Linked DNA regions of Homo sapiens. The protein of the gene in region 1 interacts with the protein of each later gene in a pairwise test. Each region holds a gene or a part of one and is shown on either strand. Other genes may lie near its edges. The genes, in order: CEP126 and FAM200C.

Evidence for each region.
Region 2: the proteins of CEP126 (region 1) and FAM200C interact in a two-hybrid assay, tested with the Homo sapiens proteins (one large-scale study listed by BioGRID and IntAct).

What each region holds. Positions count from the first base shown.
Region 1 is NC_000011.10:101,917,850-101,921,688, forward strand, and holds part of CEP126 (centrosomal protein of 126 kDa), read left to right. Parts: intron 1-3,839. UniProt on the Homo sapiens protein: Participates in cytokinesis. Necessary for microtubules and mitotic spindle organization. Involved in primary cilium formation.
Region 2 is NC_000005.10:160,394,595-160,397,136, reverse strand, and holds part of FAM200C (protein FAM200C), read left to right. Parts: intron 1-1,597; 5' UTR 1,598-1,646; coding exon 1,647-2,542.

The DNA.
Region 1 (3,839 bases):
CATGCGAATAATAAAAATGCTGTCAAAGAAAAATCACAAAACAATACAGATTGTACCACTAAAGATTGATGGTTTCCAGCTTCACCTAAACAGGAACAGGGTTCTTTCTTTTTCCTATGAATGCCTCTGCCAGGTCTCTGTCACCTTCCATCACACTCGATAGACTGTCTTACCACTTGATAAGACTTGGATGCCCTGACAGGTCTGTTCCAACAAACAGCACAAACACACACACTCCCACCCACCTGTCTTTTTTTCCCCCCAGGCTCACTGATGGGATCTTACTTTTACTATAGAAAGTGAAGTGAACCCATTCAGCTGGGCCCAGTGGCTCACATCTGTAATCCTAGCACTTTGGGAGGCCGAGGTAGGCAGATTGCTTGAGTCCAGGAGTTCGAAACCAGCCTGGGCAACGTGGTGAAACCATATCTCTACAAAAAATACAAAAATTAGCTGTGTGTTGTGGTGCATGCTTGTAGTACCATCTACTTAAGAGGCTGAGGCAGGAAGATTGCTTGAGACTGCGAGGTGGAGGTTGCAGTGAGCCGAGATTATGCCACTGCACTCCAGCCTAGGCAACAGAGTGAGACCCTGTCTATAAATAAATAAATAAATTGTATTTTGCTAATACATACATAATAAAACATAGTTTTGTACCTTGTGTTTCTAAAAGGTACTGCCCCATGCTCATGAGATTTTGAAACTTAGGTACATAATACATTTCTAATGGCATATACTTTTGTATAACCCCCTTAGGAGCCAAGTTTTCTATAATGCACTAAAAGATATAAAAATGCATATGCCTTTTGTCCTCATATCTACCCCAGAGAATTTTCTCCAAGGGAATAATTCAGGAGGTTTTTATTAAATCATTACTATATTCTAAGAACCATGCCAGGCGTGAGAGTTACAGAAATGTAGAGAAGACACTTATCATGTACTCATGAAGGTGTCATCAAGTCATCTAGTGGAGGTTAGAAAAGGCTTCAAGGTAGAACGAACTGCTTGAGATGGCCCTGAAAGGATGAGTAGAGTTAGCCAAGCATGTGCCAAGAGATAATGGTATGATACATCACGGGTTGTTCTGTTTATAATTATCTTAGTGCGTCTGGACATAGGATTCATACAGGGAAATGTTAAGAAATAAAGTTGAAAAAACAAACTATATTATAGAATGGTTTATATATAGGTCCAAGAACTTTGGAATTTTTCATGAAGGTGATAGGGAGCTTTTGGAGAACAACAAAGAGAAACACAATCAGATTTGCATTTAGCTGACTTTGTGTAGGTTCAAATAGAGGTTTAGAGTAAGAAGAATTAGAGGAGCACTGTAGTCGTCCAAGCAAGGGATTTAGAGTACCTGAGTTAAGGGAGAGGAAGAAGGTACAGTAGAGGAAAAATCGAATCAACATAGCTTTAATAGATTTGGGGAAAAAATGGGTTATATAATACATAGTTATTTGTGATGGCAACATTTTAAACAACCTAACTGGATAAAAGACTAAGTTGGGAGAGGAGAAGTGAGGATAGAGTGGGGTAGAATAAGCTATGCTTTAAAATCACATGTTACAATACATATTATTCTTGGTTTTGTTTTTTTAATGTTAAGTATATAAAAATTCCCTTCTTTTGGACAGGTATTTAGCAGTGTTTTTTTTATGGAACTCCTACCTTTACCATACAGCTTGTATAAAAAAACAAAATTTAACCAGCCATCTAATTTTTTTAAACTTGAATACCATATTTGAAATGATACAAAAGCAGCAGGATTCTTTATATTAATAATTAATAATTCAGCAGGAAACATACTATACTATTATACTTATATATAAAGAAAGTAGAAAATCATTTGGTTAAATTGAAGACTATATAGTTGTCAGAACATTACAAACATTACATTTGTGATTTTCTTTATGCTGTCGTGATGAGACTTCAAACATGTCAAACAGAGAACAGAACTGTCTCCTCCTTGCTTCTCACTTAAGCCAAAGCATCTTCCTCCCCTCAACCTCATGTTGGCCCTGTGCACCCTGAAAGGAAGTTGCACTTTTCTTTACTGCCGAGTTGTCACTTTTAATACCTAGACATCTTGTTGAAGTCTGGCTCTTGTTAAAATATTCTATCAGAGAAAAACAGTTTTTCTGTGCTAGCAAAGAACCAAATTTTCTTCCCTTTTGGTTTGATTTTTATAAATCCTTTAAAAGAAATCTTTAAGTAAAAATATGTTTGTGAGTGTGTTTGGGTCTTTGTCTTGAAGTAGTGTAAAATTTTATTTAAAATGAAGGTAAAATGAATTATGGCCTATGGTATAAAGATGGTTAAATAGCAACACAAAAGAAAACAAATAAGCCCCCATCAGCAAAGGTCTAAACAACAAAATGTTCAAATAAACCTGTTATTCTGAAATATGTAATAATAGAGTTTCTTTATAATATTGATGCTGAAGCACTATAGGATCCTGAAATTAACATGTTGAATTAACAAATTATGTACCGCATAGTTTATTATTGAGTGTATTTCTAGTATTCTGTTTTACCATTAATAATCAATTTATGAGATTTTTACAATCTTGATTAAATGCAGCCTTTAAAGAGAATTTTGGACCTCCATCTTAGCGTAAAAAGTTTTTAAACAAGCTGTTTGTTCTAAAAAAGACAAATAGATATGCCCTACAATCTATAACTTCAGTATAATCTCATATATTTCTACATCTAATGATGAGGTACTAAATGTGATTACACGGTAATTCAATGAACTTTTTTTTTTTTTTTTGAGACAGAGTCTCGCTGTGTTGCCCAGGCTGGAGTATAGTGGCGTGTTCTTAGCTCACTGCAGACTCAACCCCCTCCAAGCTCAAGCGATCTTCCCACATCAGCCTCCCAAGTAGCTGGGGCTGCAGGCATACACCACCACACCTGGCTGATTTTTGCATTTTTTGTAGAGCCGGGGTTTCACCATATTGCCCAGGCTCATCTCAAACTCCTGGGCTCAAGCAGTCTGCCCACCTTGGCCTCCCAAATTGTTGGGATTACAGGTGTGAGCCACTGCGCCCAGCCAAATGAACTTCTTTTAATTCAAAATCATTAAAAACAGAAGACTCATGAAAAACAGAAAATTACTCTGACAAATTTGATAAAGATACTTAATAATGTCAATTAAAACGCAACTAAATAAATTGGAGAAATTACTCATATTGCTACAACTTATTTAAGGAGAGTTTAATTTTATAAAATAAATTTCAAGTGAATAGATGATTAGGATAACCAAAATATTCCTCTTTTTCTCTGACAAGCTTCTGGATACACAGATGACTATACATAGTTTTCCTAGTGGTTTTTTATAACCACTAAGTCACTAAGTAAATAACTAAACTGTATTCCTAACCATTCTAGTTATATTGCTATTTGATTGTTTAATATTTGAAAATGTACTTTCCTACTATAGATTAAGGGATCTGGTGAAACATTTACTCCATCTACTTTCTATTAGTAAAATACAATCTTCTTATTTCATTTTCTTATATTCATGACTATGAGGGCAACTTGTTAGTAAGTACTCAAATATCTGTGTAATGAGGCCAAGCACGGTGGCTCACGCCTGTAATCACACCACTATGGGAGGCCGAGGCAGGTGGATCACCTGAGGTTAGGAGTTCGAGACCAGGCTGACCAACATGGTGAAACCCCGTCTCTACTGACAATACAAAAATTGACTAGGTGTGGTGGCACATGCCTGTAGTCCCAGCTACTTGGGAGGCTGAGGCAGAAGAATCACTTGAACCCAGGAGGCAGAGGTTGCAGTGAGCTAAGATCATGCCACTGCACTCCAGCCTGGGCAAC
Region 2 (2,542 bases), on another chromosome or scaffold:
AAGATATGTATTAGTTCTAAGGTAGTGCAGGGACGTGTATATTTTGAAAGGGTTTCCCAGTGATTGTGATGATATGGTGTCTCTTGTCACAGATCACTGTTCTAGTTACTATTTATAAGAATTATCTAAAATACTTACAATACAGATTCTAGGCCCCCACTCCATAGCTGGAGAATCAGAATCTCTATGGGTAGGGCCTTCTACATCCTGTCTTTGGGTTAAACCAAACCTTAGGAATGCTGCTTATTTTGTGTATGTGCATGTGTGTGTTCTTGACTGCTTTCCCTTAGAGGTATTTAGGTGGAAAAGCATCATGAAATTCGTTATTTTACTTAAGAGTGTTCTCCTATGAGAGGGATTTTTCTGAAGTCTCGGTAACAAGAATAGTTGTGTTTCCCCTGAGCAAGTTGTTTTGCTTTTTTTTTTTTTTTTTTTTTTCCACAGAGACTTGCTCTGTCGCCCAGGCTGGAGTGCAGTGGCATGATCTTGGCTTAGTAGCTGGGACTACAGGCGTATGCCACCATGCCCAGCTAATTTTTTGTATTTTTAGTAGAGATGGGGTTTCACCATATTGCCCAGGCTGGTCTCGAACTCCTGAGCTCAGGCAGTCCACCCACCTCAGCCTCCTAAAGTGCTGGGATTACAGGCATGAGCTACCACGCCCGACCATTTTGCTTTTTTATATGGACACTATGAATCATGGACTGATAGTGTGTTACACTTAGCAGCAAGGAAGCTCTGAGCCAATTTGTAGCCTACCTTTGCATCAGGGGTGGCTTAATCAGACTTAAAGACCTATTTGAAATTCTCTGCCTAAGTTGGAGTCAAAACTGCTCAAGGTTCAAATAGTATTACAGACCTGTTTAGTCTTTAACTATTAAAAAGAACTACCATGTTCTCACTCATAAATGGTAGCTAAATAATGTGTACACATGGACGTGGATAATGGAGTGATGGGTAAAGGAGACTTGGAAGGGTGGGGTGGAAGAGTGGGGTGGGAGGGAGTAGATGAGAAATAATGAGTACAATGTATGTTATTTGGGTGACGGATACCCTAAAAACCCTCACTTTGCCACTATGTGGTCTATGCATATAACAAAATTGTGCTTGTACCCCATAAATGTATACAATTATTTTAACCTCCATGTCAGAATCCACCCTTCCTTATTTAGTGAATTGCTCCTTTATTCAGTGATTCTTAACTGAGGGTATGCATACATCTTTGGGGCTGAGTGGAAGAAGGTGGTGGTAGTGAGATGCCCTTTCTAGGGATACAAAATGTGCTAGATTTGTTTGTAACATACATTATTGAAAACAAGTTAAGCCATAACTATAATTCACCAATAAAGGACTTACAGGTGTTCATAACTTGTCTAAGCTCAAATCTCCCATATATAACTTGCTGGCAAATCATTTATTCCAGGGCATTAGCTATGAGTTGCTAGCTTTAAGTTGAACTATATCCTGTCATGGCTTACTTCGAATTGACATGCTGCAGGCTGTATCTTGACATATACAAGATAGCATGTGATGTGGCTTTGTTTTAATTCAGTTAGCCACTGGTTTTTAATGTGTGGGTTATATTTTACTCCCAAAGCAAAATTCTGTGGCATCTCTGGAATACTACCTGAGAATTTTTGTGTGCCATGTCGAAGAAACGCAAATGGGATGATGACTATGTTCGCTACTGGTTCACCTGTACAACGGAAGTAGATGGAACTCAGCGTCCACAGTGTGTGTTGTGTAACTCAGTATTTTCAAATGCTGACCTCAGACCATCAAAACTGTCAGACCATTTTAACAGACAGCATGGTGGTGTAGCTGGGCATGATCTCAATAGCCTGAAGCATATGCCAGCACCATCTGATCAGAGTGAAACCTTGAAAGCATTTGGAGTTGCATCTCATGAGGATACTTTATTACAAGCATCGTATCAATTTGCGTATTTATGTGCCAAGGAGAAGAATCCTCATACAGTAGCTGAAAAGTTAGTGAAACCTTGTGCACTGGAAATAGCACAAATAGTTTTGGGACCAGATGCACAAAAAAAGCTTCAGCAGGTACCCTTATCAGATGATGTGATCCATTCTAGAATTGATGAAATGAGCCAGGATATCTTACAGCAAGTTCTAGAAGATATCAAAGCCAGTCCTCTTAAAGTGGGTATTCAGCTTGCTGAGACAACTGACATGGATGACTGCAGTCAGCTAATGGCATTTGTGCGCTATATAAAAGAAAGAGAGATCGTAGAAGAATTTCTCTTCTGTGAACCATTGCAGCTATCCATGAAAGGAATAGATGTGTTCAATCTCTTCAGAGACTTCTTTCTGAAGCATAAGATAGCACTTGATGTATGTGGCTCTGTTTGTACTGATGGTGCCTCCTCTATGCTAGGAGAAAATTCCGAGTTTGTTGCCTACGTGAAAAAAGAGATACCTCATATCGTAGTTACACATTGTTTATTGAATCCTCATGCACTTGTCATAAAGACATTGCCTACAAAACTGAGGGATGCTCTGTTTACTGTGGTGAGGGTAATAAA